Linked DNA regions of Homo sapiens: region 2 is linked to region 1. Evidence: fine-mapped expression QTL. Tissue or cell type: whole blood. Region 1 holds a variant in brackets; the other region holds the start of a gene. All regions are shown on one strand. Distances are between the middles of the regions.

Region 1 (2,852 bases):
AACAAGAATCAGCTTGTTTTAAAACAAGGGACATACTGGACTCCCTCCCATCCCCCTTCAGAAAAAAAAAATCAAGTTATCTTTAACAGATTCTAAAAATGCCTTTTCCCAAATATGCAGTCAGTTCCTTCAAAGGGCCCTTTGTTTATTTTCAGGAAGAAACCCAAGACAGCTGAAAACCAGAAGGCATCTGAGGAGAATGAGATTACTCAGCCGGGTGGATCCAGCGCCAAGCCGGGCCTTCCCTGCCTGAACTTTGAAGCTGTTTTGTCTCCAGACCCAGCCCTCATCCACTCAACACATTCACTGACAAACTCTCACGCTCACACCGGGTCATCTGATTGTGAGTACACCACTAAGGTGATGGTGTCTTTGCAGTGCTTGGAGTAGTGCTTCTACCCTGGGTTCTGGCTTTTCTACTTTCAGAGCGAGCTCTTTGCATTTGGTCTTCTAAAGCAGCCAAAAGTAATGTGCCACCATTTTCATTCAGCCAATATCTATAAGTTTGCAAAGCTAGAGTGTATTTAAAAGCCAGGTGACATGCCATTTGGCCTTAAAGGGCTGATTAATTACATAAAACACGTTCTTTTCATAACACTAACCCAGAAAATGAAGTTTTGTTGCTGGTATCCATTTATTCTTGATCTGGATAATGGCACTTCCACAATTACTAAATTGAACAACCAAATGTGGACCTCAGAAGGCCAGTTAGACACAAGGAAACATCCATTTTGAAATTACATAACACAAGTCAGATTTGCATTAGTTATTGGAGTCTCATGTAGCTTGGCTGAATTTCTGTCTTTCCAGTTTTTAATTTATTTTGAAGTGGTTAAAGGATAGCATAAATTTACAGAAGAAAAGAGAATGGCTTCCAAGAATTCAGAAGCCACCCAGACTTCACACAGCCAATGAGAATCCAGGTTAAAAATATTTTTTAATTAAAAAAACTGCCTAAGGGCTAAATTTGGAAATGGGCAGCTTAATGAGATCGTCGCTATTGAAATCACTTCTTTGCTGTTTATTTTTGCCATCTTCCCACTAATCTGGGAGTCACTTCTTCTAATTCTATTTTAAGCAAGTTGATAAATCACGTTTAGGAGATTTTTTTCTTTTTCTGAAATGTAACCCAATACTTCAGAGAAAAAGAAACATGTGTGTTGACAATGGAAAGGAATGAAATAACTTTGGAGTCGAATCCAAAAGAATATTCCTTTTAGTCTTAACATACCCAACAACTCTTCTGAACTGATCTCCATAAAGGATGTCTGGTAACATGCAAATAACTGGCATATTCTTCTTTAAAATGAGTAACATAAGACCTGCAAAGTTTTATTTCAAAAATAAAATTTTGTCCACAAAGACAAAAATTATTAGGAAATGAGATTCTAAATCTTTTATTGTTATTTTTCTGACAGAACAAATGTAAAATTCTGCAAAGAAGGCAAGAGACAATGGTCCAGGAGATTCCATTCTCTACTTGCTTCATCATGATAGTCTCTAAAGAGAGGGAAATGAGCTGGCGGCAGGATTGGGGTGAAGAGAGCTTGTTCTATTTAAGGTTGGGCTAAGACCATATTCTAGCCGTCACTAGAAAATGAAAAGGGAAGTAACGTGAGACAAATCTCTGTGGCCTATGTGATTTGAACAGTCGAAGTTGAGGCTTCTATAGAGAAACCAGGGGGCAGAAGCAGGGACTGTGTTCTGAGGACCGTCCTAATAGTCACATCCTTGGACCTTCTTGCCTGGCAATCTTCA[G/A]TGTAATAGTAATGACAGAAAGAATTGGAAAGTAGAGTGGCACAGTGCCCATAGGCATGTGCACACTGTCCCTTCCCACCAGGAAAATAGCCCGTTCCTGTGGTGAAGGGCCTGGAGTTTCTACATGCAGGTCTTCATTACCCAGCTTTCTGCCACACCTTATGGGTATGGATTACATAGAATTGCCTTAGGCTAGAAATCTTCTGTTACAGCAAAAATGAATGTTTTGTGAATAGAAAAAGCATTGGGCTTCACTTATTGTGCTTTATCATAAGCATCCTCTGGCCAGGCCTTAGCATTGGCATGAAGTAAGTTTCAGGAACAGCGTGAGTATGGTGTCACCATACATCTCCTTGGTGGCCCTGGGGAAGCCAGTGGATGTGAGCTCAGTTGGAAAAACAAACCAGGAGGAGAAACCTGATCTCCAGCTGTTTTTAGACAGTCACTTTGATTTTGCCATTAAGATGTGTAAGTCTTCTCTGTTCCAACCTGTTGTTTAAATTGATTATACTTTTCTCCAAATATATTTGGATTGTAGTTTGTCCTGATTTGAGCCTACACTTAGAAGAAAATTGTTTTTAGGAAAGATTCACAGAAATCTGTCCATTTGGAGATTGCTTGAGAGAAGACAGGAAAAAGGTTTATTTTAAGCTGTTAAAATTTTTGGATGCTCTTCTTGCATTCAAGAGGATTTTTTTTTTTTTACTTTCAAATGTCATTCTTACCATAGATTAATTTAAAAGCCTAATTTCTTTAAGGTAAAATATTCAGTTCCTATTTAGAACTAACAGATTTGGGGCATTTAAAAATAGTGCCCTTGACTTGTTAGTCTCTTTAACTTCAGAAACATTCCACCAGTGTGTGTTGTTCCAAGCTTTCACAAGTGCTTGAATTTTTATAGCACCTTTTTATTTGTCATGTGTTTAGCAAAATTATTCTTAGTCATGATTTAATGCCCATATCCTGTCAGTATGATCCTTCCCAATTTACAGATGAGAAAACTGAGAAAATTGACACCCAGGTAGATGGAAGACTCGCTTGTGGTTAACTCATTTGGGTACCGAGGGGTGTTTATGGATTTGCTCTCATTGTGA
Region 2 (2,653 bases), 27 kb after region 1:
GGAGGTAGGCCTTCTTCCTATCTGCAGGCTGTTACCTCTCAGGTGGCTTCTCACAAGACAGAGAGATTTGGGTCCAGGCCAACAATCAGTGCTTGGGCCATTTGGTTTTGAAAGCCCACTTATTTCACTTTCCCAAGCTGATTGTTCAGTTGTAAAGGCAAGAATGGGGAATCTGATTGAAGAATTATTTGGAGGGGGATTCTCTAGAGCCATCTGAGAGATGAGCTAGAAAAATAGAAAAGCCCTAAGATCTACTGCTGTAGCCACCTGTTTTCTTTCTCATTCTGAATCCAAATCTTATCAATAGTATCCCTTGCCATAACAGCCTACGTTATAGGGTGGCGCTGGGTCAGGCTATCCGCAGCCTCCACATAGCTGTTGCCTTCCTCCTGGGAGCTGTTTAATACTTCCCTGTGGCAAGTACATAAAGCACCCTATTACCCAAGGAGATCATATATCCCACTTCTGGCTTACTCCTGCTATCCTGGCCTAATTATTAACAATGCTCTCTTTCACTCTTGAAAGTGCCCTGTTTGCATAATAAATATGATCACCAATGTACTGTAGTCTCCTGGGTCAGAACTGCCATCTCTGACCTTTTTAACATTCCTCCTTCATTAAGCCTCAGAAAATTCAGAAAACCTTCCATATCACATGCAACCACCCTAGAAAGTGCTCAAACAGGTTGTCAGAGATGACAAGAAGAATGAGTAGATACAGAAAGCAGCCATGGAGTGCCCCTTTAGCTAGCAGATTGCTTTCTGTAGCCCATCCATCATCCGGAAAGCATGATCATGACTGTTTGGTAGATATCTTAGTCTGGGTTGAATTTTCCAATAATTTTTGCATACATGGTGTGGGTTTTGATAATATGCCATATGACTTAATAGGAAGGGGGTTTATTTGTTAACTATGAATATGGTCACTGTGTATGAATAAAATAAGGGACTTTGATAAGTTGGGGGAAATGTAAACTTTCCCAAAGAATCTGGGCTTAGGCCTGTCTAAAGTGAAGGCAAAGTAAATAAATACATAAATAAAAATAAAGTGGAGGTTTAGTGTTCCATAAGAACAAGTCTTCCATTTGCCTTTCAGTTCTTTGCTGAAGCTGTAGGAATAGCAGGCAAACAAATCATCTGGTTATTAGGCCACTCTACCTCAGCCGAAGCTCTGGGGAGTTAATATGGATACCCAAAATGGCTGCGGCACTAAAGGCCGGAATTGGAGCAAAATTCAAGGTCCTTTTCCCTCAGGTCATCGTACCTACAGCTTGTATGCCGCAGCCTGTCCATCTCCCCACTTGCGTATGTAAGGGCAGTGCTTCTAGGAGCCATGAGCATTACTCACCTGAAACCTAGGTGTTAGGAATGCAACCAGCTAGATCTGACCCATGCCCTGTTTTGTGTCTGCGTTGACATGCTGCAGGTGACATCAGTTGCAAGGGGATGACCGAGCGCATTCACAGCATCAACCTTCACAACTTCAGCAATTCCGTGCTCGAGACCCTCAACGAGCAGCGCAACCGTGGCCACTTCTGTGACGTAACGGTGCGCATCCACGGGAGCATGCTGCGCGCACACCGCTGCGTGCTGGCAGCCGGCAGCCCCTTCTTCCAGGACAAACTGCTGCTTGGCTACAGCGACATCGAGATCCCGTCGGTGGTGTCAGTGCAGTCAGTGCAAAAGCTCATTGACTTCATGTACAGCGGCGTGCTACGGGTCTCGCAGTCGGAAGCTCTGCAGATCCTCACGGCCGCCAGCATCCTGCAGATCAAAACAGTCATCGACGAGTGCACGCGCATCGTGTCACAGAACGTGGGCGATGTGTTCCCGGGGATCCAGGACTCGGGCCAGGACACGCCGCGGGGCACTCCCGAGTCAGGCACGTCAGGCCAGAGCAGCGACACGGAGTCGGGCTACCTGCAGAGCCACCCACAGCACAGCGTGGACAGGATCTACTCGGCACTCTACGCGTGCTCCATGCAGAATGGCAGCGGCGAGCGCTCTTTTTACAGCGGCGCAGTGGTCAGCCACCACGAGACTGCGCTCGGCCTGCCCCGCGACCACCACATGGAAGACCCCAGCTGGATCACACGCATCCATGAGCGCTCGCAGCAGATGGAGCGCTACCTGTCCACCACCCCCGAGACCACGCACTGCCGCAAGCAGCCCCGGCCTGTGCGCATCCAGACCCTAGTGGGCAACATCCACATCAAGCAGGAGATGGAGGACGATTACGACTACTACGGGCAGCAAAGGGTGCAGATCCTGGAACGCAACGAATCCGAGGAGTGCACGGAAGACACAGACCAGGCCGAGGGCACCGAGAGTGAGCCCAAAGGTGAAAGCTTCGACTCGGGCGTCAGCTCCTCCATAGGCACCGAGCCTGACTCGGTGGAGCAGCAGTTTGGGCCTGGGGCGGCGCGGGACAGCCAGGCTGAACCCACCCAACCCGAGCAGGCTGCAGAAGCCCCCGCTGAGGGTGGTCCGCAGACAAACCAGCTAGAAACAGGTGCTTCCTCTCCGGAGAGAAGCAATGAAGTGGAGATGGACAGCACTGTTATCACTGTCAGCAACAGCTCCGACAAGAGCGTCCTACAACAGCCTTCGGTCAACACGTCCATCGGGCAGCCATTGCCAAGTACCCAGCTCTA

Evidence for each region. PIP is the estimated chance that this variant, and not a neighbour inherited with it, causes the effect.
Region 2: it holds the start of ZBTB20-AS1, and the variant in region 1 is fine-mapped to the expression of ZBTB20-AS1 in whole blood (TOPMed, PIP above 0.99).

What each region holds. Positions count from the first base shown.
Region 1 is chr3:114,377,708-114,380,559 of GRCh38, reverse strand. ZBTB20 (zinc finger and BTB domain containing 20) reads left to right here. Exons shown (of 12, transcript NM_001348800.3): 10 at 156-343. The region is part of intron 7 of ZBTB20-AS1 (ZBTB20 antisense RNA 1); the gene reads right to left. Among named protein-coding and RNA genes, the nearest start is that of ZBTB20-AS1, 27 kb to the right of the region's middle. The variant G/A (reference allele first, on the strand shown) is at 1,759.
Region 2 is chr3:114,350,651-114,353,303 of GRCh38, reverse strand. It overlaps ZBTB20-AS1 (ZBTB20 antisense RNA 1), which reads right to left and starts at 1,493. Exons shown (of 9, transcript NR_038993.1): 1 at 1,348-1,493. ZBTB20 (zinc finger and BTB domain containing 20) reads left to right here. Exons shown (of 12, transcript NM_001348800.3): 11 at 1,426-2,653.